7 linked regions of the Homo sapiens genome follow. The protein of the gene in region 7 purifies or fractionates together with the protein of the main gene of each other region. This does not show direct contact. Each region holds a gene or a part of one and is shown on either strand. Other genes may lie near its edges.

Region 1 (3,500 bases), on a different chromosome or scaffold from region 7:
TATCCTTTTTAGATGGGCTGTCTGGTTTCTCTTCTCCTGATTCTGAAGAATCAATGGCTACTACTTCTAACTGAGGATTAGGAATTTCTAGGACTTCCAGAGACGAGTCACTATCTGGCTCATCTCTGACACTCTCCTGCTCCCGACCAGTCCTGCTGTCTTCCCAAGTGGAGGTTGTTACTTTCCCCCCTTTAATTAACTTTCCAGCTTTTACTTTCCTTACAGGTTTAACAGTCAAAACATCCTGTTCAGTGTCACTATTCTCAGGAACATGGGCAGCCCGTAGACTTTTCTTCTTCCGGAGTTTCTTCTTTTTCTTGCTTCCCCTAGTCTCAGCTGATGTCAAAGTGGATTCTGCCTGTTGTTCAGGCTGGTCAGCTGGAGAGTGGGGTTCCTTCTCCAAAGGGGTTTCTGAAGCAAAAGACAATCTTAGAAAAGAACTGGTACAGGCTTCAGACCCACTATTGCCTTTGGTTGGCTCTTCCCCTTCTTTATTTATGCTAGAAAGACCAGCTGATTGGGAAGAGGGAGAGTTTTCTCTGTTTCTGGTATTTCTTTGCTCCACAGAAAACTTCAGTTCTTGGCTAGGCTCATGGAAACTTTCTGTTGACTCTGGTAAGGACAATCTAGCAGTGATGACTGGATAAACTGGACAACTGTCACTGATCTCTCCTGAATTGAGAGGAAAAAAATTATTGCATCCTTTTTTGTGTTTGCTGCAATTTATCACTGACTGAAACTCTACCAAATATTTCAATGATATGTTCAGAAAACCATGACTGTTTCAGCTGGTATCTCACCCCTCAGTTTCCCATCACCTACATACACTCCTATGACAACACTTACTACCCTCTGCCTTGCGTGAATCTCACAAACACTGTGTGTCTTATTCCCTACAAAAGCTCCTTGTGGGGAGGGATTGTTTCTATCAATCTTTTTTCTTGTTTTAAATGTCCACACATTTAACATTGTGGTTTATTCTTAGTAGACACTTAAATGTCTACTTAGCTGAAGTCCTTTTACTTTTATTTCTTTGAAGTTTTCATTATCCACACCCATCCAATTTAGCTACAGCTTAGTAGTTAAAAAAATTTGCTGACTTAGAAATGTCAATTTCCTTTGACTTAGTTACTTCATGTCTAGGAATTAAAAGTGATGAAATAATCACAGATGTACTCAAAGACATATACAATGCAGTGTTACACAGAATATGAAAAAAGTTAGAAAACTAAATATTCAAAAAAGATTCACCACATAAATTATTGTTTAGCCAGATTATGCAACTATTCAAATATTATGCAACTTGTAATATAAAATACTTTAGATAAATTATTTTTACAACAGAAAAATCATTATATATTAAATGGAAAAAGTCAGGTTATATATGACTGCTCCTTTGTACAAGTTCTACATGTAAACACAAAAATATGATTTAAGAAAGATTGAAATAATATGTAATACGAAAAATAATAGTACCAAAATATTTCATGTAATCCATAAATATATACACCTACTATGTACCCACAAAAATTTAAAATAATTTTTAAAAATATGCTAGGGGCTGGGCAAGGTGGCTCATGTCTGTAATCCCAGCACTTTGGAAGGCTGAGGCGGTCGGATCACTTGAGGTCAGGAGTTCAAGACCAGCTTGGCCAACATGGTGAAAGCCTGTCTCTATTAAAAATACATAAATTAGCTGGGCATGGTGGTGGGCGCCTGTAATCCCAGCTATTCGGGAGGCTGAGACAGGACAATCACTTGAACCTGGGAGGCAGAGGTTGCCGTGAGCCAAGAGCATGCCATTGCACACCAGCCTGGGCAACAAAAAGCGAAACTCTGTCTAAAAAAAAAAAAAAAATATATATATATATATATATATATATATATATATATATATATATATATATGCTAAGTCACGCGCAGTGGCTCACACCTGTAATCTGAGCACTTTGGGAGGCCAAGGCGGGTGGATCACTTGAGCCCAGGAGATCAAGACCAGCCTGGGCAACATGGTGAATCCCCATCTCTACTTAAAAAAAAAAAAAAAAAAAATTAGCCGGGCATGGTGGCAGGCATCTGTAGTCCTAGCTCCTCTGGAGGATGAGGTGGGAGGATCAACTGAGCCCAGGAGGTCAAGCCTGTGGTGAGCTGTGATTATGCCACCATACTCCAGCCTGAGTGTCAGAGTGAGACTCTGTCTCAATAAATAAATAAGCTATATATTTGATACTAACATCTAGATTAATATTGCAACATAGTACTGGTAGTAAAATCTAGAGTAATTTTTTAAACTTTTTGCTTTTGCTCAGGAAACCACACAATGCCAGTTTGTTGGACTTAATTTTCAAATACAGCACCACTGTGGTAATGCAAACTTCTAACAGGATTTTACATAGCTTAGACGTATTCTCAAATGATAACCAGGTAAGTGTTATTTTTTGAAAAGAGTGAAAACCCTGGCTATTTCTCAACAGCAAGTTCTTAGTAGATGATTCCAAACCCCATCATGGCCACCTGCCTCTCACGCTTATATTAATCCTGGTTTGTATTTGAGATTATATAGACAGTAAGTGCAAAGAAATTCAGAGGATAGACCTTATTCAGAAAATTGGCTGAATTAACTTCAACCCCATTTATTTCACACGAAACAAATTTTGTACTTATCCTAATAAATGGAACCTTGTGGGTGCTAATACAAAGTCAACTCTAACCCTAGATTAGAGGAAATGAAAGAAAATGACTGATATTTAAATTACATTCTCTAAAATATTTTAAAAGAATCCTCCTGTATATATGAAGAGAATTCCAGTGACAAATTAGTTGTACTTGCTCATTTTAGTTTTAATGAGCAAGTATGGCTTATATCACTCATATAAAAATGCCCCAGTCTCACTACTGGGATGCCCTTAACCCAGAGAAAAGCTTACATACTATTAGCTTCCAGTAATTCCTTGGACACATTGCAGGCAGAGCTTGGTGGCACAGCATTCACATTCTCATCTTGTTCAGGAGACATGGGCTCTTGTTTAATCTGAACTGATGAGTCTGGAGCAGGGACACTGCCATGGGTTTGGAAAGTAGGAGACGTGGTTATTTGAAGAGAGGCTCCGGTGGGTGATGGAGACACATGGGAAGATGGAGGCTCCAGAAAAAGTGGGAAAAAGGGAGTGGGCAGCAGTGCGGCATCAATGGATGTTTGAGATCTACTGTTCCTTCGTTCTCGTGTGAGGCTACAGGGAACCTGGTCTGGGTGCTCAGAAGGTTCATATGTTTCTAGAATGGGAAACATACATACATAGAAATGCAAAAATGTTATCTGAAAAGTCATTTGTGTCTGAGCTAATTTGTATTTTTAAACATTAGAAAAGAATTATAAATAAGTATATTAGTATAGTCCCTCATAATTCTCCGAAATATGGAGAATATAATCTCTACAACCACCAAGGATACAGAGAGAATAGGCATCAACATTCTTTTTTTTTTTTTTTTTTTTGAGATAG
Region 2 (3,500 bases), on a different chromosome or scaffold from region 7:
ACACACACACACACACACACACACACACACACACACTTAATGCCTGAAATCTTACAGCTCTGTTATGAAAAACATGAGAGTTTCCCTGCCCCCAAGTTTGATGACAATGCTAAAAATACACAAGACATTACAAATAATGAGTTGTGAAGATAAATCTTTTTTTGGTCCATTTATTCTCTCATTGAGAATTATATTACTGGTCAAATGAAGAGGTTATTAAAGAATATGCCCCTTACCCCTCAAATAAAACATATAAGAAAAATAGTATTTAGGAGTGTCAGCTATTTGTTTTTATAGATTTGGTGATGTTTGTGGCATTTTCTAGCTTTTAAAATTCTACTTGTTTTTATTCATTTTATCACTTTAAGAAAATGTTCACCTTTGTGTTTACTCTTGTATTTTCATTTGCAATTTCATACTATTTTTCTTAAGGAATATCACTGAAGTTATAAAAGCTTCAGGTTCCATAAAACCAGGATCTGTCCCAAATTCCTGTACCCTGATTAAGGAGGTAATCACTCTCTATGCTTTTCTTCATGCATAGCAGCTTGTTAGTGACAGAAAACCCAATTTGGTTTTCCTCTGCTGGGAAAGGGGACAGAGACCAAGTTTTCCTTGCAATACTACCAGGTCCTGCTGAAGAGAACAGATTTCTTTAGCGCTAATTCAGACCTTATCTTGCAAACTGGCAGCTGTACCTGGTAATATTAGGAAGACTCTGAGTTCTGGTGAGAGAGCGTGAGTTTCTCTCCTGGAGAGATGTCAGCATGTCGGGGTAGCTGAATGTGTGTGTGTGCCTGCTCTAATGATTTCAGTTGAACAGGAAGTGTGCCTTCTCAGCCTCTGATTTCCTCCCTCTGACAAAAAAGCCCATATAAGGTAAAGACTGGCTGTGTCCTGTGAGAGGGGAACTACTCTGCTGCTAACTAAGCCAACTGTTCTAGACTTGTGCTTTGTCTGTCTCACAAGAGTCCAATTTTTTCATTTGGTAACTATTTTTTTTTTCCACTAAAAACTTGCCTTTGAAGGCCCCAATCTCCTGGCTCCGTGCTTCTCCTCTCATATCCCCTCTGATGCCCATTTCCTCCACAATAACCCCCTTCCCAGTCTCTCTCCTCCTCAAGCCCTAAGTCTCAGGGAAAGGCTTGACCCTTAGTTACAATAAGGTGAAAGAAAATAACATCTTAATTTGTACGCCTTTAGTAGGAGACGTTGTTTATTTAACAAGAATCAGAGTTTCAAGCTAAAACAATTCAATCTATAGCAGTGGAATTTCTAGTATAATTCCGGATTGCTTCTCACCTTCCAGTAAGTTTTGTAGTGGATAGAAGATCAATACTTTGATGTTTAGACTGTATAAACCTTATAACTTCAGAAGCACACAATTTGTTTCTTAATATTTCCATCAGCAGTCTTTATTGCATAAATAACAATTCTCTTACTATCATGTGGAGACAAAAATCTGTAAATATATCAAATGTGTATGCCTGCACTCTCTTCAATTAAATAGAGATAAAGATTGGGCTTTTCATGAAACATGGTAAATACTGTGCACTCTAAGAGCAATGATTTGTTAACTGGTCCTAGCATATATATCTCTCTGATTCACCAGTTTTCTTCTGTTGGAACAGGAGACAGAGACCAAGTTTTCTTTGTGATATCTTAGGCCCCCTTTGAACAGTACAGATGTGTCTACATACCAGTAAGGTCCATGGTGATTGGTCCCGGGGCACTCTCACAAACCAGGGTGAGCCGGGTGACAACGACATTGGGGGCTTTCGGATCTGCAGGATCGAAAGGGAATGTAAGTACCAAGAAGAGACATGTGTATAGTGGGTGTGTGCATTTCAAGTGGGAGACAGAGAGTATGAAAATAAAAGTGATCTTTCTATCTGGAGTAGAAATAGAAATGGATGTGGCAGGTTTGCTATGCTTGGTCTTGATGGCCTTGTAAATTACAGCAAAGTTATTTCTGCTTTAGGCACTTGTAGGTCCATCTAATTATTGACATCCAACATTTCCTGAATGGCTATGGGTCAGGTACTCTGCTAATTGGGCACTGTCCATTTATATCTCTGGGCCATGTCTTGTTCTGCCGCGGTGTATGTGGAAGAGATGAACGGTTAGGTAAGGACTGAGAAAGAGAGAAAATGGAGAGAGAGAAATACAATTCTAAGTGGTAGCCTGGAATTCTTTCTAAATCCCCTCTGTGTGTTATGTGTGCCTATCTCACTGCTGACTTGCATCTTATCTCTTAAGAAGACTTAATTATACAGTTCATAACTTTAATCAGCATATATAAATTGTGCCTCGCTCACTTTTTCCTGGAAGCAGTTGGTCCTCTTCCCTTTGCTGCTGCTCCTGAGCAGCCAAAATGTCTTCTTCCCTCTCAGCGATCTTCCACCCACCCTGTTCTCTGTACACACATACCTGTCACCACAGGACCATCTCCCAGCAGCGTTTTCTTGTACTTAATTAGACTCTCATCATCTTTGTCCATTTCCTGCAGCTCTTTCAGGGACTTCTGTGGTGGAGGCTTATAATTGAGCTTGCTGTCCAGCTCATCATCGTCATCCTCCTCCACATGTGGCTCTGGGGCTTTTTCAGTCATTCTGATCTATTTCTGGGAGACAGAATGACAGCCCGTTAGTCAACAAGTCATGAATATAAAAGATGTTAGTGGGGCTGCTGTTAGCAGCCTCCTTACCCTCATGGACTTCTCTGATCATCAGTCACTTTCCTGATTGTTTTCCTAATTCAATCTCATTAAATTCTATGAAATAATAATCTAATGTATTCTAGTAATTTCTCTGACCTGCCTGAATTTCTCTGTACCATTGTAGTATCTTCTATTCACTGAACAAAACTGACAAGAAAGAAATCACTCATATGTGAATAACGTACTACGAGTGAAGCAACATGGCACAAAGACTCCTGAACAAATGAAGCAAAAGCCCAGTCAAAAAGCTGTAGGAGTTATCACAGTCCTCCAAATCCAGCCAGCCTGGCTAGCGTCAAAGCTTGCAGCATGCACAGTCTGAGTGATAATGGTGGAGAGAGGCAGGAGAGAGAAGAGAGAGGTGGAGTACTTGCCAGAGAAATGGTTGGCTCCTCCCCATCAATGGAATCTGTCCCTGAACTCCAGCAATGCCTCAAAGATGACTCATGACGAACCGTTGACCTTTATGATACCTGCCTCAGGTGCCTGCATGGTTCACACCCAACACTGCTAATCACCCCTCAAGGGTGGGTACTAGGTTTGCTGTTTTTCTTGAATTCCCCCTAAAACACTTGCATAGTTCTGGCACTTTATACAATTTCCTTGATTGATATATAAGGTTTTATATCTAAAGATATTCTATTCTTTTTAAATGCCACAAAAATAGCAAAGGACAGTTTAAATTCCTCCAGACAAAATCGTAAGTACAAATTTGCCCTTAGCATTTGTCCATCCATTTCCCTTTTCTGGATCCACTTCCCTTTCAGTCTCTCCCCTTCTC
Region 3 (3,500 bases), on a different chromosome or scaffold from region 7:
GTTCATATACTTTAAGTTGTAATTTTATATGATGAATGTATTATATAGTCAAACAGAGATAATAGAATTATTCTCAGTATAATACTACTTATTCCCAGTATAATCCTTTAAAATGGCAATGGTATAATGAGTAGAACAGTTAAGGTACCATTTAGCTGCAAACAGGAGAAAATATTATTGAAGATGCTTAAACCAATAGGGGTTTATTGTTTCATACAATAGGTCTGAGGCTAGGCAGAACAGGGCTGTATGGCAACTTAGACATGTCATCAGTCTCTACATTTTTCCACATTCCCTATCTATAGGTCTTTATCTCAAGCCTGTTGTCTCAGGGTCACGAGATGGCTACTGCACCTCCATACCTCAAGTCCCCTTTCCAGGCAGGAAGAATGAAGGGGCAAAAACAGCCACAGCCAAGGCTTGCTCCCAGTAAGGCTTTTTTCATTTGGGGTAGAAAGATTTTCCAAAGATACTGCACCTACATGTCAATGGTCAGTCCTACGGCACATGGCTGCCTTTAATAGCTACAAAGGTATCTGGGATGGTGACTATTATAGTTCCCCAGCCTCTATTACATAATAAAAGGTAAAAGGGGGTTTTAAATGAAATTGGGGTAGCCAAAACAGAATGTCTGCCACGTATATTAATTCTGTGTATATTGTCTAATCCTAGAAAAGCACATTAGACCTAGTGAACACTCAAGGGAATGAATAAAATGTTATTAAAGTTCTATAAAATTCTACCTACATCAATAAATCTTTCTTGACCATTATAAAAGAAAAGAGATATGGACTACAGCTAAGACTCTAGAGTGAATTTCTGTTTCTGCCCATTAGTATGGTATTAGAACATCCATTCTGCCAGTTTCTTTGCCTTTTCCTAATCTGTTTTATCATCGAGCCTGTCCCAGAACCATCCACAATTTACAAATCTCCTCTTTGATACATTGCCCCAACTCCTTCAAGATGATTTTCATGTAGATCTCTTTTTCCAAATCCTCTCTGGCCCCCAGTCTCCATGCACCAATCCACTGTATTCCATAACCACAGAAGAGCTTTCAACTTTCCCCCCAAATTGTTAAACAAGTGAATGAAACATATCAAGAAAAAAAAACACACATCTTAAAAAGATGTTCCCAAATGTTTCATTAACACATGCAACTATCTTAGTTCATCACTCTTCTAAGAAGTTTTGTAGACAAAAACACAAATATAGCAGGTGCTGCAATACATGCTGAAGCAGCAGCAAAAAAAAAAAGACAAGCTCATTTATTTCAACAACAGGAGATAAACATCAATACACCCTCTTTTCAATCCTTTAATATATCTGGAATTCATGCTACTATATGGTACAGGCTGAAGATTTACATTTACTTTTAGATAAACTGTTAATTATTTCAGGATAGTTAATTCAGGAATCATTCTTTCCCCACTGATATGAAATGCTACCTCTACCATATACTGAATTCACAGGTAAGCTTCTGGGCTCTTCAGTATTATGTTTGTTTTTACATTAGGACCACACTATCACAATTATTAATAATACATTTATATGATATATTATAATTTAATATTTATTCTCAACAACATAGTATACAAGACAGACTTTAGAATCATTGCAGCAAGTGCCAAAAAGAAAAAAGAAAAAGAAACCTTTAGGAATTTGACTCATATAATATTATATTATTTATCAATTAATTTGGAAGACATTGGCATCTTATAATATTGTATTCCTTCCGATCTTGAATATTTACTCAATACTTCTGTCAAATACAACTAATAACTGATACAAAGGGGTATAATACATATCCTATTTGCTTAATTTTCCTTGAAATTTCACATGAAAAATATATATAAAATCACTTGGAAAAGAATAAACTGTGGTATGGTGTTACAGTTATGTAGGAGTAAAAGAAAAGCTTCCGTTGACCACAGTATTCACATATCATCAGTAACAATTCACCCACAGAATTCATGTACTTGAACTGGCAGTTTCACACGTCCCTATTGGTCATAATAAAGTCAGTCCTTTAAATAATCACTCAAATTTACTGGAAACAAATAACATCCTAAAACCATACCACATCGTAACATACTATTTCCTTTAATTTTTAATTAATAAATCCTGACATGATTATTTTGATAACCTGGAAAATTTACCAGCCATATCAAATCAAAATTACTATAAATGATATAACTTCACCTGTGAAAAAAATGTAATTTCTCAACCTGAATAAATTTACGAGACTCTGAAGTGATTTCCAATCATATTGTTTGACATACTTAGGTTTTAACTGAGTTTTTTTTAAAAAATGGGAGTGAGGCCCAAGTTAGAAATATTGTTCCTTATAATTTTTTAAAGTGCTTCCTACTTTCCTAAAATTTCCAATAGTCATTTTTGCATGCTATAAAAGAATGTGCAGGCTAAACCTACTTAGCTTTGTGTTATCTATCACTCAGGGAGAGTATGATGCTCCTAAATGTCAAACAGAGTGAAGGAAATAAAAAGATTTAAGTGACAGAAAAATTATAACTCATAAGAAGATATATCTAAGTTTTGGTGGGGTGTTTAGTGACTAGTAAGAGGAGCCCCTTGTAGAAGAATTTCAGTAACGCAAGCATACTAGGTAAGAAAGAATCAGATTTCCGCACTATGGAAAACAATGTTTCCTCTTTTAGTCAAATGAACAATGTATCAAGCATCACATCAACAGACTTTTAAAATGAAATAATTATGACTATGCTCATCTCTGATCTCAGGAAAAAAATTAGTCTAGATACATATAAAATATAAATTTCATATACATTTAAAATGATACTCTAAATAGCTGACATTTCTCTTAAACAATAATTTTAAAGACATATTTATGCAATAAATTTAGCATCTCACCTGTCCAGCAACAGCACTGAAGTAAGTATACACGGAGTCACCAGCTGAGGAATAAGTGTCTGAATATGCTGGCCCAGAGTATCCATCGAGGAGTATAGCTGGGCCTGTTTCTGGCACTGGCTGTCCCATCTGCATTCCTGGCACCTGAATGCTAAAATTTCCAAACTATAATAGTGAAAGGGGAGAAGGTTAGTAATATAAATACTACCTATTATCTATGAAAGTTGGATTAAAAGAAATTATTAGAAGTCCGTCAAAAAGTAAACAGTTACCAAAAGCTTATAATCTTATCACAAAAATTTTAACTACAAAATGTTAGATGTCCTACATTAAGACATAATTCAATTCATCAACATATATTACCCAGCATTAAAAGAAGTATAAAAGAAAAAAGAAAGTTACTAGCCTCTAAGAACTTAATCTAAGAGGAACATGTACAATTTTAAAAAATGTTTACCAACATCACTGAAGTAAACAAAAAGTAAAACAATGCAAGATTTTACCTAAAGTAAAACTAAGAAGTAAACCTCAAGACACATACTTAGAAGAATATATGTGTAAATACAATGAAACTTTAAGTGTCAACATTTACAATATGTTGGGTATTGTAT
Region 4 (3,500 bases), on a different chromosome or scaffold from region 7:
TATGAACAGAAGACAACAGCATCAAACCCAAATCTGAAGATAATTTTTTCTTTCAAGAAGTTTCATTGAACTTTCTCATTGTTCATACGCCTATTAAAGAGTAAGCTCAAAAGGAAAATCCTATCTACAAGATCCTCAAGACAAAACCTCCAAGTTCCTATCACACCTGAATGGCCAAATATACCTTTGCAAACATTTGATTTGTTAATAAACCAAAAAAAAAAAAAAATCTCAGCACATATGTTTACTTTTCATTGCAAAACCATCTTAAGGTTTGCTGTTACAGGAATGATTCTGTGGGAAAAATTACCTTCAATAAATGCTTATCAAGAAAACCAACAATATTCAAGATGCTGGAATGTGCATTACAAAAAATGCAAATATAAATAAGACAGAGTCTCTGCCCTTGGGGCAGACATCCTCCAGTGGGGGAAGATGTGATACTAATCATTTAATACACAATAGGATATGCTAAATACTAAAGAGACATTGAGTGTGCTATGGGAAATCAGAGGGCTGGAACACAGAGGAAGAATTAATTCTAGCTTCTGAGCTTTCACAGTGAAAACAGGTTCTTTGGGCATCTGATTGAAGAGACATCCACGCAACAGCATGCAATAAAGTAACACAGGTACATGTGTAGTTCCATTCTACTACTAGGGAGGCCTATATGTTCTGAATCTTAAAAGCAAGCAATATTTACATGCCAAAGAAAAACTTTTTTGCTTATTAACCACATAAGACTCACATAACAAACAAGTATCTCAACCTATACTGTATGCCACCCTTTGGACCACAGGGAATTGGCATAAATCATTACAAGCTAAGAGAACCAAGCACCTCACATCCTCAAGCGGGGAAAAATCATATAAAGCTAACTTTTTTCTAAACTGCATTTCAAACCTACCAAAATTACCCCTTTGTGAAGTAGAGGAAAAATTCTGAATCTTAAAGAAACAATTAAGACCCATCCTCCAAAACCCTACTGCACTGTTAGAAAACAGATGGCCGTGGCAATACTGTGTTGGAAGGCTGCCTTCAATTATCAGTCTGGTTACTACCAGCAGATGGGTACCGATGTAGCAAAGCCAAATTCAAGAAGAGGGAGAATCTGGCTAGTAGAAAGTACTTGAAAACTTGCTGGCAGCTGCTCCGTTCATGTATATGCGTTCATTTCATCATTAAAATAAGACAGAACCTGTTGTAGTTATTATACTCCCATCTACCGTGTCCTGATCCTGCTTCCCTGCTGCTAAACTGACACTCTATCGAATTAAGATATCAATCAGAACTAAAGGGCAGCTCCAACCGATCTCAAGATTGATAGGCTAACATTCACACTAGTCAGTGTTAAACTTTGCAAAGCACGATCATTAAGGTGCAACAATGTTATTGATTTAAATTAGCATCATTAAATTATGGAACGTATAATGACTGGTTTGTTCTTCAGACTCAGAATAATCACCCCTCAAATGAGATCACAGATGTGAAAGGACAAACATCTTAAAGCACTTTGACAGGGGCAATGTAGCATTATTAGTAGTATTTCCTCCCAAAATTTAACAGTAGCCAGATCTCTGTAATCAATGCTAAGATCAGCTGAATGAGGTCAACATAGAAGAGGAACTAGAATGTAATTACCTGGGTCGACTTAGCATTTTTATTTTGCAAATGAAAAAATATTTTCTTACTCTAAAAAAAAAATTTTTTAATCAAATCAAATGACACCTGCATCTGGAGGCTTGACAAGAAAGCTGGAAAGACACTGTGCAAAACTAGGTGCGTCCCAATAGGAAGGAAGGAAAAAAGAAGAGAGAGAGGGCACCAGGGAAAGATGGGGAATTTTATGTTTATGTGTTTGTTGGTCTCGATCCATGTCTGTCCATAACTGGAGACATTTAAATGAATAGTAAGCTCAATGGAAAGATTAACATGACTTTCTCTATTCTGGCATTAGCTCCGTAAATATTTGTGTCTAACGAAGAAATGTTCAGCCAATCCTGGGACCCAGCAGGCTTATAATGCTATGGCTATGACCAACCCAAGAATTTTAAAAGGCCAGAATTTAGAAAATGAACATCTGAAAATGGATGTGCAAGCTGCCATCCATCAGCAATTAGTTTTCCACGAGGCTACAGCCACTTAAGACTTGATTGGGTATCTCATTATCAACAATGAGTTAAGCATACAAAGATACATTTTCCTAGGCATCTCCTGCATCCTCACATGATTTGCAAAATTGGGTACTATGCTGGAAAAGCACAACAAAAATCCCTATAACCACAAGCCAGCATTAGAGCTTAGCAAGCAATTCCACCCAGATCAACTTCGCTTTAGGAGCAGCAAGGGAGGCATCATTTCCTAGGGCCAGACAAAACAAATTTCAGCTACTGTGTGGCATTTCATGATCCCATCCATGAATATAGCTTAATACGTCCCCTGCTGGGCGAAGCCTATATACTTGGATAAGGGATGGATGCAAAGAATGTGTTTTTCCCTTTCCTCCTCATCTCTCTTGCTTGCCAGAGCCAGCTCCTTAGAGGACCTAGTGTAATACAGATCCCTATGCTTGGAAAGGTCCCCAGGCAAGTGTTCCCTCATCTTGACTGTCAAACGATGGTATTTTATTGCCTAACCCCAATGCTATGGGGCTGGCACTGGATAGTGGACGAGCAGCTTATCTAAACCCTCCATTCACTTTGATACTAAATGTTAACTTTACCCTTGATTGGGCCATTAAATCACATTTCCAGTACTGATAATTTCTCATTGTGAGCAGCATGTTTACTAAACACAGACAAGGAAAATTTCAGTACAACTGTCACATTATTTCGGCATCCAAAACCTATAAGCGTCCTAAATTTGTTAGTGCTTACATATAATTAGACACAGAAAGATACCCAGAGTGACACAGTAATAGAACAGGCAAAATTATAAATATGAGAAATCTCAAGTGCACTGTCCCCTGATCACACTTTCTGTGCCTGTAGGTGACAGCAAACAATGCTAACATCAAAAGGTCATGGCAGTGATGAAGACCAAGGCAATGGGCAGGTGTTGGACTGCAATAACTGACTGAGCACTTATGTGCTGGGCACTGGGCTAAGCACTTTACATACAATATTTAACTTAACCAAGAATACAGCCTTGAAAAGGCAGGAGAATGATTTGTCCCTATATGCAGATGAGGAAAGTCAGACTGAGAAAGGGTAAGCCACTGTCTAAAGGTCACATTGTGGTAGGTGGCAGAAAAGCAACACAATCTCAGATCTCACTCACTCTAAAGCCACTACCATTTTCCCACTAAGTTACACCACCACTCTAACTGGGTTCATCAGTTATCTGGTCCCAATCCCAATGCAAAACACAAGAGCCAGCCAAACTCTTTGAAATCTTGCTATCACCCTCAAAAGATGACACATACATAAACATAACCATAAATTAAGACAAATATTAACTTCATCCCCAGGCCCGGTGCTAGACACTTTCACACAGATGCC
Region 5 (4,064 bases), on a different chromosome or scaffold from region 7:
AGGATGCCAATGTCTCTATGAGATAATTTCTAGCATTATTCTCATTTTACAGATGAGCAAACTTAAGACTTAGGTTAAGCAACTTACTGAGGTCACACAGAGGTAAGTTACGAAGTGGAGACTTAAACTGTTTAATTCCAAAATCTACACTCTTAAACAAATCGACTTCCAATTCCTGCTCCCACCCTCCCCTATATTTCATACCTCCCTGCTGGCACCGGTTGCAGAAGCATAACCACAATAATGGTAATAACACTTTATTGCAGGTGTCTGGTGTCTGCGTGCCAGATTCCTTGAGTTAAATCATCTCTAACCCTCACATTAACCCCACAAGGTTGACAACACTGCCCCTATTTTCCAGGGGCAGAAACTGTGGCTCCAGGAGGTAAGTCACTTGCTCCAGTCCAGTAGCCAGTACATGGCTAACTGGGATTTCCATCCAGGTTTTCTGACCTGAAAGTGGTCCCCACACTTGTCCTCTACTCCACACCACCCCCTGTTACTGCTCAGTGTCCAAGTGCAAAAAGGAACTCAGAGGGAGCAGGGTTCGTGTCACATGCTCTCGGAGTGTCAGGCCCATGCCTCAGACTATCACAGGGCACATGCTGTGAGCACATTTACTCCCAGAAAGCCCCACAGAGGACTCCTGTCACCTTTGACTATTCTGTGTGGGGAACTGCCACCATCCTGATCCAGGTTCTCATGTGACTCCATCTAGATCCCTGTGTATAGAAGAGTCCTCTCAATGCAAGAAGCCTATATGCAGTCTGCCCACCGGCCCCTGACGCAGCCCTCCCCGCCCACCGAACATCCCCCCTGCCCCTAGGAGAGCCAAGCATCTCACCCATGCTCTCATATTCAGTCTAGGCATCCTACCCAAGTATCCTAATTATAAACTAGCCACCAGCTCAGGCTCTGTATCCCAGTCACCACCCCCATTCAGGCCCCCAACTATCCAGTGCCAGAGGCCCTCAGGTGCAGAGGGCCAGTAAGCTGAGGTTGGACTCAGGCTGGGCCTCCCTGGGTGTCCCCTCTCAGGTTCAGCCAAACCAGGACAGACCCAGCCACCCTTGTTTCCAGCCCAGCCTACAAGCCTCCTGAAACCCACCAGTCTGATGGTAGCCTCCCCTCCCTGTTCTCCCAGGTCCCACACCCAGACAGTCCCCTAGAAGCATCCTCGCTGGCATGGGGAGGAGCCCACCCACAGCCCATTGGCCCCACCTTATCCTGGGCTCTCCGCACCCACACGAACTGTTTCATCCTGTGCCCACACCCCAAGGGGCAGGGAGGTGACAGGATTAGGCTCAGGACTCCATGGGGGTGTGGGGATGGGGCCACCTCCCCCCTGAGTCAATGGGAACAGAACTTGGGTCTTCAATAATCATGTTCTTCCCTCCCCTTCCAGGAAGAAAGAGAAATCGCCTCCCTCCAAAACCAAGCCCAACCAGAAACCTGTCCCCACCCCCTCATCAGCTGCTCCCAGATCCGAATGGGATTTGCAGAAGTCCTGAGCACTGGTGGTTGGTGGGGTGAGGGAGGGGAGGGGAGCTTTGGTGGTCTAAGGTGTGGGCAGAAAGAGAGAAAAAAAGAGAGTAAGGGGGGAGGTATCAAAGCCTCAGGCTGGGGAATGATGTGGCAGGTCCAGGGAGTGCCGGCTTGGAGCCTTTACCTCATTCTCTAGTGGGAGATTGGGGCCCAGAGAGGCTGGGAAGGAGGGCAGGCAGGAGAAGCAGATTTACTTCTGTCCCCCTCCTCCCCGAATCAGGCTGGGTGGGCTCCAGAGTAGGCCTGGCTGCAGGGGAGGCGGCCCACTCCCCAGCTCCCGCCCTCACCCCAAACAATGCCGCCTCCCCCTCCCCCTCGCCTTTATCCGGCGGGTTACTTGGCAGCAGCGGCTAGAGACCTCCCTCTCTCCTCCCCTCCCTCCTTTCCCCTCCCCGCCGGCCCGCAGCAGCAACAGGCCCTTTGCGCGGCAGCTGGACGGATGGGGTGGGGGCGAGGTCTGGGCCAGGGCCTGAGGGTACGGGCACTAAGGCCGAGGCGTCGGTATGCAGGGCCCAGGCCTGAGAATATGGACCCCCGACACACTCAGGCTGGGGTCACATGTGCCACGGGGGATGGGGAAGGGGACGGAAGCCCTAGCTCAGTAGAAGAGGATCTTCAAGGCCCGGGGTGAATCGGGAAGGGACGTGGGGGCGGGGAAGCTGAGATGGCACTAAGCTGGGGCAGAAGGGTCACCCCAACAACTCCCGCGCGGGGTCCCTGCGGCTCCCGACGCCCGATGCGTCCGGCACCCGGGGTGGGGGAGGGGGCAGCTGTCAGAGGATGCATCGCGAGCCTGGAGCCGCCGCCGCCGCAGCCTTTATTTTTAAACTTCCAAGTGGTCAGAGGGCGCGGCAGCGGAGGGGTCCCCGCCCAGCCGGCCGGCCTCATCCTCGGCCGCCCTGCAGCCCCTCCATCTACCCCCATCTCGCCTCCGCGTGGCTCCCGGCATACCTGGGGGTGCGCCCGCCCCCAGCTCCGCACGCGGGCCGCTCTCCATGGCTGCGGCGTCACTGGGGGTCTCGGGGTCTCAGCGGCGGCGGCGGCGGCGGCCAGTGGCCAGGACAGGGGTCCCGCGGCGCATCACGCCCGGCCCGGCCCGGCCCGGCAAGTAGCGACTCGGAGGCGGGGGCGCTCCGGGGAAGGTCGAGGCAGGTGGCCCGCGAGTCTCGGAGGTGCCGGTCGCCCGGGGTCTCTCGGCTGCGGTCGCGAACCCGTTCCCCGCCCGGCGCCGGCCCAGTCCCGGCCTCGGCCCAACCCTATTGTACCGCCCGGGCTGGGCCTGGCCTCTCGCTGGCGCGTACCAAGTTCGAGGCGGGGGGGTCCACCCCAGCAGCGCCCCGGGACCCAGCCCCCCGCGCCCGCGCCGTCCGCGCCGTTCGCGCCGCCCCCGCCCCGGAGCCCCGCGCCCGCAGCCTCCCGGCGCCTCTCCCACGGCCACGGCCGAGCGGGCTCCACGGCTCCAGGAGTTCGCCGCGCTAGCTGCCTCCCCCTGCGTCCGCGTCTTGGTACGCGCCGCAGCGCCTGAGGACTAAGTAGGGAGCGCTCGGGTGACTCACCCGCCGCGGGGACTGGGGGAGAGGGGGAGCAGGGCTGGGACTCCCCTTTCCCACCCTGGAGTTTGGGGGCTCTGGCACTGGGGCTGAGAGGGCAGCTTCGAGTCCAAATTCTCGCTCAAACCCACCTAAACCAAAGCGGCCCGGGGGACGTCGGGAGGCATGAAGGAGAGTCACAAGGAGACCCCTGAAAGGGTTTCGCTTTCTCTCCCCTGCTGATGGCTGGGCTGGGGACAGGTCTGGGAGCCTTGCTGCCGCCCTTGCTCCGGCATTCTGCGCTTGTGTCTTCCCTGCTCCTCTGGGGGTAATTACAGCCCTGCGCAGCTGCCTTACCCAGGTCTCTAATCTGCTGGGTCCCTCCCGGCTCCAAACTGGGTGGTCCTAGCCCTGGACCTCCCCCACCCCCACCAGACGACCCCGCCAATCACCCCAGAAGGATTTTCTCCCAGTGGTCTGTCGATGAGGGGGTGGTGACCCCCTCCAGAATCCACTCCCCAAAGTAGCCCTGCTTCCCAGCCCTCCAGAATGGACTCCCAGCCCCCTTGTTGGTGCCAGCTGAGGTGAGGGCTTCAAGCCAAGCCAGGCCCAGCCCGGGGCAGAGTGGGGAGCTTGCTGGGAAGGTGGATGGATGATGGTGGTGCTGCTGCAGGGACTTGGGTTGCGGGGGAGGAGGAGGGGCAGCTGTGCCCTGCCCACCCTGGCCCTGCCCTTTGTCCTGACTTCTAGAAGGTCAGTTCTCTAGTTCTTCATTGTCCAGAGATTAGGCCCAGTGAGATACTGTCCCCCTTGCCCCCCTTCCCTCCAGTTTCTCCTTCCTTTAAGCAGCTCCAGAAAGCGGCCATTTGGAGGGATAGAGTGGGAAACAAAAGGGTCAGGGGCTCAGGCAACCTGGGAGCAGCCTGTCCTGGGATGTGTGCGTATCTGGGGGCTTGGACACTCTTGGGAAGGCCTGGGAAGGGAATAGTG
Region 6 (4,158 bases), on a different chromosome or scaffold from region 7:
TCGTTTTTGGACAGAGTCTCGCTCTGTCACTCAGGCTGGAGTGCAGTGGCGCAATCTTGGCTCATTGCAACCTGCACCTCACAGGTTCAAACGATTCTCCTGCCTCAGCTTCCCAAGTAGCTGGGATTACAGGTGTGCGCCACCAGTCCAGCTCATTTTTGAGTTTTTAGTAGAGATGAGGTTTCACCATGTTGGCCAGGCTGGTCTCAAACTCCTGACCTTAAGGGATCTGCCCGCCTCAGCCTCCCAAAGTGCTGGGATTACAGGCGTGAGCCACCATGCCTGGCCTCATCTATCCTTTTCTTTTTGTGCTTAGAGAACTTCAACTATCCATGCTATTTCACCCCTATATCCTTAGTACACTTTTCTTAAAAATATCAACATTTTCTTATATAACCTTGACACCATTAACGATGATTTCTAGGTATCTTCTAACACTCTGTCCTTACTCAAAACTTCCCCAATTGTCTTAAAAATACCTTTTTCAGTTGATTTATTCTAATCAAGAGCTAAGTAAGGTCTACAAATGTGAATATTATATCTCGTAAGTCTCTTTTACTCGTGTGACACTGAGGCACTTTGTGCCTTAATAGTATTTCAAGGTCTAATATAAAAAACTGGCATATATATATATACACACACACACTCTTCAGAGAAGAGGGAGCAAGACAAACCAAAATGTTAAGGCCACATTTTAGTAAACACACAGTGTATTTATTTAAGAAGTCATTTGCCCAAAATTCTTTAAATAACGTTCGACCGTAGGCATTTACCTGCTTATATAGCGCGTAGAGTTTTAGCTTCACTTCGTTTCCTGGATCCTTTTTCAAGAGTTTCACTTGATTCATTGAATTTTCAAAGTCCTTCTGACTGGCTCTCATTGCTGTTCTATTCATGTGCAGCTGAACTACCGGGAAACTAGTGACCTGCAGAGAACTACAATTAGGCAGACTGATTTCTATTTGTTCCCAACCCTCACATTTCTGCAGCCTGATTTCTAATTGTTCCCAGCCTATACATAACAAAATGCCATGTTTGTCTATAGATATTTTCTTTATACTTGCCTCAGCAAACTGGCTGCAAATAATTGGCTGTAAGGATTCCAAGATAATAAGTCAATACAGAAGCTAACAGTAGTAACTTTAAATAAAAGGAAAAGTAACCATCCAGGGAGGTATCTGTAAGCAACTAAAGATAAAAGCAGCCAGAACAGGAATGACCATGTAAATTTTGCCAAAGGCAAGAAGTGAAGTGCATGCAAGACAGTGGACAGCAGGAAACCAAAAGGCTAAAGTGCACAGAATTTAGTGAAGTGTCCCAAAGTCCTGAAACAGCCTCTGCACTCACTGATAAGCCATAAGCTATATCAGGTCAATTCTTGCCTCTTTGCTGGCGAAGCTGGTGTTCCAACATACACACAGGTGGAAGGAGGGGAGAATGGATGTGAACATACAAGAAATATTCAAAAGAACACACGAGCAGTTGCTGGCATTCCAGATAGAGCCACAGCCTTCTCAGCAGATGGGAGGGAATCTACCTGCAGTGGAAGGGAGTCAGTGAAGGGGGCTCAGCAGGCGTGCCCCTTTCTATGGGTATGTTTAACCAGCCAGCCAGGAACAGAGCAGAAACAGCAACCACCGCGGGGGTGATCAGCACGTTTTTAAGCACACATAGTGAGCGGGGGTGGGGTGGCAAACTTGAATGCACAGGACTCAGGCCACAAGCTAAAAATGGAGTTCACGACGATGACACTGAATAATAGAGTTAATGGCAAAAAAGATGATTAAAATAATACAGGTTACAAAGCCCAAACCTAACACACAAACACAATTATGTAACTCGAAAATGGTGCAATGAACTCTAGGTTCAAACTTTGGACTATTAGTAACTGATTCAGTAAGATCAGCCTAGAGTAAGTTTTACATTAAAATGATTTTCTGTAAAGGGAAAAACTGCATCTTATATGGCAAATTCCACGTAGAAAACGAAAGAAAAATTTAAAATATCCACAGAAAGCCGAAATGTACAAGTTTCCACAAAATGTGGAACAAATTTATTTTTAAATAAAGCGTGAGTTTTAAAAACAAATAGCAAAAACACGACCATTTAAGAAAATACATAAAGTCGGGAAAATCACTCATAATTCTACCACTTCAAGGCCACCACCGTGTTTCGGTTTTGTTCCCTATGCACAGATTCGTGCGGGTTCCCGGGACCCCAGGGAGGTGCAGCGTGCTTCTTAGCCGTTACTCTGTACCCGGCCATTTCACTTTATAGCATACGTGTTCTCCAAGAAGCAGAGTGTTAAGTCCACACGAGTGATAACGGCTTGCGTTTACCTCGCTTTTAGCAAGCGACGCTTTGCACCCCAGAAGCAGCCCGGCTGGGAAGTGCAGGCCCGGGTGCTCAGCTGGGGCGGCTCACCCGCCCGGAGTCCGGCCCCAGGAGGATGGGAGCGTGCGCGGAGGCAGGCGGAGACCTTGGGGACTGCTGACAGGGAACCATAGCCCTGACCTCCCGACGCGCCCATCCTGACCACTCCGGGCCCAGCGGTGCAGGAGGGCGCGCGTGAGGTCGTCACTTTTTAGCACTACCTCACCGGAAAACCAGCAAAGCAAAATCCTGTTGCCACCTAGACAATAGGGAAGGAGGGTCTTCCAACGGCGGCGACCTTCGCCTGGACAGCGGTATCCTGCGGGCGACCATGGGCCGAACGGCCGGGACTCCAAGCTTACCTCGGACACGAACGCCGCGCCAGTCTCCAAGCCAAGTACGCCATCGCCATCCCTTGGGCGGCTCTAGGGCTGCGGGGGCTCGGGGGTGGGGCCGGGTCTCGGGGGCGGGGCCTAGCTCGGTCTGCGGGGGCTCGGGGGTGGGGCCGGGTCTCGGGGGTGGAGCCGGGACTCGGGGGCGGGGCCTAGGCTCCCGGGCTGCGGGGGCTCGGGGGTGGGGCCGGGGCTTGGGTGCGGGGCGGGGCCGAGAGCAGAGCCCAGGCAGGAGCCTGGGGCATGGGCGGGGCCAGGGTTGGGGCGGGGCCAGGCTGAGAGCGTAGCCACGCCGCATTCGCCATCGCTAGCCCGTGGCCTCCTCTGGGGCTGCGGGGGCTCGGGGGTGGGGCCGGGGGGGTCGGTGCGTGGGCGGGGCGGGAGCTCTAGGCGGTTAGGAGTCGGGGCTCAGATGCGGGGGCGGGGCCGGAGCGAGGCCGGGTATCACCCGGGAGTGGAGGAAGTGCGGGGGGTTCGCGGCGCGGGGAGGGTGATCCCGGGAGGACTTGCGCGGCGCGTGGGGCGGGGCACAGATGCTCCCCGGCCTGGCTCCGAGTAACTGCGAGCTGGAGGCGCGGCTGCTCTCTCGGGCGGACCTCAGCTCTGCGAACCCTGTGGCTGCCGGAGCACTGAGCGCCCTGCCCGGAGTCCCGCGGAGCCTGGCGAGGAGGGGTCGCTGCATCCCGAGGGCCAGCCCTGAGCCGGGAGGTGGGGTAACAATTGAGGGCGTATGCTTAAAAGCTGCTAGGTCATGCATCCCCAAATCGAAGGTTTGCAGACCTGGTAGGACGCCTGGGGGTCAGAAGTGATTTTTGGAGTACCCAAGTTTTTAGTGTCAGTGAAGAGTTTGTGGATATTTTTGAGTTCTGCTGAGGCATTTGCAAAGTATTTTCTTTGGGGAAGAATTCTTAAGAGTTGGAAGGGCCTTGGCTGTGTCACCTTGTCCAGTTCCCAGAGAACCAAAAAACAAAACAGAACAAAACGAAACAAAACCACCCCTCTAAATTCTGTGCCCAAGTTGTCCCATCCAAGCATGCCTAGGAGTTTTAGATTTATGTAGCTGACACCTGTGGACTACCTATAGTGAGCCAGGCTAATTGTAAGTCTTTGGACAACCCTGTAAGGAAAATGATATTGCCCTGTTGAGCTGATGTGGAAATTGCCCTGTTGAGCATATTGCCCTGTTGAGCTGATGTGGAAACTGAGACCCAGAAAGATTAATCAGGTGAATTCCCCAAAGACAGGAGGCTTGCAGGTGGGCAGAGTCCAAGTCTCAAGTAACTTTATCATTAAGTTTCATCAGGTAGATCTGGGTAATAGTGTAGATGGGGCAACACCAAAAGTCAAATAGAACAATTTGGGCTTATCCCAAAGAGATTTTTTTTTTTTTGAG
Region 7 (3,500 bases):
TATTAAGAAAAACAGCATGATAAGAGTTTGGTTTGCTCATTCCTGAGTTTAATTAAGGGGAAACAAACCCAAAAATGATTATTGAGTGCCTTCCTATGGGTAGGCATACACTGCTAGGTTACTTATTATTTCATTGCAGTTCTCACAACAATCTTTGTAGCATAATTATCATTACCTATATGTTACAGATGAGGAAACTGACTAGAAGAGGTTAAACATTTTATTCAGTTTCACAGATGTTAAGTGATAAAGCCCAGTTTTATGTGATTTTTTAAATAATATGTAAGGCATGGTAAGATGGGCAAATGAGATGAAATCACTGTTTTATAAAAGTGGATATTACGACTTCCTACATCAGAATCTTGAGTGTTCCTTAAAAATGTAAAAATCCTGGTTTAGTCTCATAACTGCTAAAACAGATACTTGGGCGGGTGCGGTGGCTCATGCCTGTAATCCCAGCACTTTGGGAGACCGAGGTGGGTGGATCATGAGGTCAGGAGTTCAAGACCAGCCTGGCCAATATGGTGAAACCCCATCTCTACTAAAAATGCAAAAATTAGCCAGATGTAGTGGCGTGTGCCTGTAGTCTCAGCTACTCAGGAGGCTGAGGCAGAAGAATCGCTTGAACCCGGAAGGCGGAGGTTGCAGTGAGCCAAGATACTGCCACTGCCCTCCAGCCTGGGTGACAGAGCGAGACTCTGTCTCAAAAAAAAAAAAAAAAAAAAAGAGATTCTCAGGGATTTGAGCCCAGAATATTTTATTATACTTTTTTCAAGTATTCAAGTGATTTTTTTTTATATTCACAAAAGTTTGTGAACTAGATTATGTTTACTAATAGTCATCTGTTACTTAGCTAACTGAAGTTCTGCAGATCTTTACAGTGACAATTTCTTGCCTTTTAGGTTAGGCAGATTTTAGAGCTTTGTCCTAACCTGGAGCATCTGGATCTTACCCAGACTGACATTTCAGATTCTGCATTTGACAGGTTAGTTATTTTAAACAATTTAAATATAATGAAAAACTATTTTATAAGGTTTCATTTATGTAATTGCAGTTTAATCATACTATTATTTTTTACTATCAAATCTCAGTCATGTCTGAGTATAATTTGATAGCACCCTCCAGTTCTTCACTTCTTACTCATAGGTCCCAGCTGATCCAAAAATCCCATCTGTATTATCTTGCAATCTCTGTAGTCCTATATTTTGTCTAGGCCCTTGAGCCCTGCTGTGCAACCATGTAGATTGGTATTATATGTTTTTAAGAAGTTTTAGTTTTAGTTGGGCTCTAAGTGCCATTTGGCAAAGCTCCCTCTTAGATTCTTCACAGTTACTCTGAAATAGTATAGTGTAACTTTCTTCAAGCCACCTTCTTCCCAGAGTATATCTCCTTGACCACCAATTCTCTGTATTATTGCTCACTCCCTCTTTCCCACCCAACTATTTATATCAGCACCTTTTTTCCTGCTGCAGAGGAAGAGGTATACTCTTCTCGGGCTAAAGCTAATGCTCCATCTTCCTAGAGCTTGTTTCTTATGGATCTTCCTCATTAACCGTCGGTTATTCTCTTTCTTTCATGTGTTTGCAGCCTTACTTCTGCTGACTACTTTTAGGATAATAAACTTAAGTCTTCCAATCCTTACGCCTCTCAAATCCTACCCTTCTGTTAGGTTAGGAATACTTTGACTTCCTTATTACTCTCATTGAGTTTTTGTATCCCTAGCATCAAGAATAGTACCTTAACAATAGATAATTCACTAAATACTTAAGTGATTATATTAGATGTCAAATCTTTCTTCTGGTTTTCATCTACATGCATATAGTCAAATGCTTTTGAAAAATTTAACAATATTCATTAATAGTCTTGTCTTTTAATTATAGTTGGTCTTGGCTTGGTTGCTGCCAGAGTCTTCGGCATCTTGATCTGTCTGGTTGTGAGAAAATCACAGATGTGGCCCTAGAGAAGATTTCCAGAGCTCTTGGAATTCTGACATCTCATCAAAGTGGCTTTTTGAAAACATCTACAAGCAAAATTACTTCAACTGCGTGGAAAAATAAAGACATTACCATGCAGTCCACCAAGCAGTATGCCTGTTTGCACGATTTAACTAACAAGGGCATTGGAGAAGAAATAGATAATGAACACCCCTGGACTAAGCCTGTTTCTTCTGAGAATTTCACTTCTCCTTATGTGTGGATGTTAGATGCTGAAGATTTGGCTGATATTGAAGATACTGTGGAATGGAGACATAGAAATGTTGAAAGTCTTTGTGTAATGGAAACAGCATCCAACTTTAGTTGTTCCACCTCTGGTTGTTTTAGTAAGGACATTGTTGGACTAAGGACTAGTGTCTGTTGGCAGCAGCATTGTGCTTCTCCAGCCTTTGCGTATTGTGGTCACTCATTTTGTTGTACAGGAACAGCTTTAAGAACTATGTCATCACTCCCAGAATCTTCTGCAATGTGTAGAAAAGCAGCAAGGACTAGATTGCCTAGGGGAAAAGACTTAATTTACTTTGGGAGTGAAAAATCTGATCAAGAGACTGGACGTGTACTTCTGTTTCTCAGTTTATCTGGATGTTATCAGATCACAGACCATGGTCTCAGGTGAGTTATCAGTTCCAGAATATTAAGAAATAGACGTGTTCTCATTTCCAAATGGAATATAAAAATTTTGATCTAAGTCATTCTTTTCAGTTGATTTACTTAGCAAAAAGGATTAACCAAGATCTGCCCTACTTCAGAGTTTTGGAGCAGTGTAACTTCTGTTATCAGTATGAAGTTTCATTTCTGTCAGTTCAAATCCATTGTGATGTATGGAAGAACATAAATTCTAAAGTTTAATAAATACTTAGTAAATGGCTACATCACATATTTTAAGGTACTTTAGTGGATGAAGAAGGTACAATTTTTACTCTCAAGAACATGTAACAAGAAAATATGCATATTCTGTTGCTGTGTATTATTTCTGTATGTTATAGTTTTATACTGAGGGTTTTGGAAAACGTAGGCTGTCCCTGGAAGTCATTTAGTCTGACTACACGGCTGTTAAGTGTTTACAAAAGCCAAAGCTGAGCTAGAGTTTCATATGTAGCTAGAGTTTAGAAATTTTGGTCTTTGATCATGATCAGCTTACCTTCTGTTGCTTTTTTAAGTCATAAAGAGAACATGTGGAAGAAGTTCTACATTTTCTTTTCTGTTTTTTTTTTTAATAAGCATAATCTTCAGCAGATTAAACCGACTTTTTTTTTTTTTTTTAACCTCCTAGAGGAAAGAAGGGCTGAAGGTGACACATGTGTCAGCCCAGACAGGTAGCTCTTTTCAGCAGCTAGGTTCTATATGTTTTATAGGACCCACCTCAAGATTTGTTAGGTTACGAGTATGCACTGTTGGAGAAAATACCATGGTGCACTGACTTGGGAGCATGGCAGACTTGATGTAGATTGATTTTGCTTTTTTCTGTATGACTGGCTTTGTGCAAAATACTTAACCTTATACTTT

The links.
Region 1: the proteins of FBXL5 (region 7) and ZNF106 purify together in Homo sapiens (affinity purification with mass spectrometry; 2 studies listed by BioGRID and IntAct, with this or other methods). This does not show direct contact.
Region 2: the proteins of FBXL5 (region 7) and ARHGDIB purify together in Homo sapiens (affinity purification with western blotting; one study listed by BioGRID). This does not show direct contact.
Region 3: the proteins of FBXL5 (region 7) and GCA purify together in Homo sapiens (affinity purification with mass spectrometry; 2 studies listed by BioGRID and IntAct, with this or other methods). This does not show direct contact.
Region 4: the proteins of FBXL5 (region 7) and CENPF purify together in Homo sapiens (affinity purification with mass spectrometry; one large-scale study listed by BioGRID and IntAct). This does not show direct contact.
Region 5: the proteins of FBXL5 (region 7) and MAP7D1 purify together in Homo sapiens (affinity purification with mass spectrometry; 2 studies listed by BioGRID and IntAct, with this or other methods). This does not show direct contact.
Region 6: the proteins of FBXL5 (region 7) and ECI2 purify together in Homo sapiens (affinity purification with mass spectrometry; 2 studies listed by BioGRID and IntAct, with this or other methods). This does not show direct contact.

Annotation. Positions count from the first base shown.
Region 1 is NC_000015.10:42,439,142-42,442,641, forward strand, and holds part of ZNF106 (zinc finger protein 106), read right to left. Parts: intron 3,274-3,500; coding exon 2,932-3,273; intron 673-2,931; coding exon 1-672. UniProt on the Homo sapiens protein: RNA-binding protein. Specifically binds to 5'-GGGGCC-3' sequence repeats in RNA. Essential for maintenance of peripheral motor neuron and skeletal muscle function.
Region 2 is NC_000012.12:14,948,102-14,951,601, forward strand, and holds part of ARHGDIB (rho GDP-dissociation inhibitor 2), read right to left. Parts: intron 3,051-3,500; exon of another isoform or gene 2,816-3,050; intron 2,624-2,815; 5' UTR 2,612-2,623; coding exon 2,431-2,611; intron 1,785-2,430; coding exon 1,701-1,784; intron 796-1,700; exon of another isoform or gene 699-795; intron 1-698. UniProt on the Homo sapiens protein: Regulates the GDP/GTP exchange reaction of the Rho proteins by inhibiting the dissociation of GDP from them, and the subsequent binding of GTP to them. Regulates reorganization of the actin cytoskeleton mediated by Rho family members.
Region 3 is NC_000002.12:162,347,132-162,350,631, reverse strand, and holds part of GCA (grancalcin), read right to left. Parts: intron 3,055-3,500; coding exon 2,890-3,054; intron 1-2,889. UniProt on the Homo sapiens protein: Calcium-binding protein that may play a role in the adhesion of neutrophils to fibronectin. May play a role in the formation of focal adhesions.
Region 4 is NC_000001.11:214,634,195-214,637,694, reverse strand, and holds part of CENPF (centromere protein F), read right to left. Parts: intron 1-3,500. UniProt on the Homo sapiens protein: Required for kinetochore function and chromosome segregation in mitosis. Required for kinetochore localization of dynein, LIS1, NDE1 and NDEL1.
Region 5 is NC_000001.11:36,154,896-36,158,959, reverse strand, and holds the start of MAP7D1 (MAP7 domain-containing protein 1), read right to left. Parts: upstream 2,801-4,064; 5' UTR 2,543-2,800; coding exon 2,497-2,542; intron 1-2,496. UniProt on the Homo sapiens protein: Microtubule-stabilizing protein involved in the control of cell motility and neurite outgrowth. Facilitate microtubule stabilization through the maintenance of acetylated stable microtubules.
Region 6 is NC_000006.12:4,132,776-4,136,933, forward strand, and holds the start of ECI2 (enoyl-CoA delta isomerase 2), read right to left. Parts: upstream 2,801-4,158; 5' UTR 2,786-2,800; coding exon 2,736-2,785; intron 2,694-2,735; exon of another isoform or gene 2,595-2,693; intron 937-2,594; coding exon 774-936; intron 1-773. UniProt on the Homo sapiens protein: Able to isomerize both 3-cis and 3-trans double bonds into the 2-trans form in a range of enoyl-CoA species. Has a preference for 3-trans substrates.
Region 7 is NC_000004.12:15,624,358-15,627,857, reverse strand, and holds part of FBXL5 (F-box/LRR-repeat protein 5), read left to right. Parts: intron 1-902; coding exon 903-985; intron 986-1,880; coding exon 1,881-2,606; intron 2,607-3,500.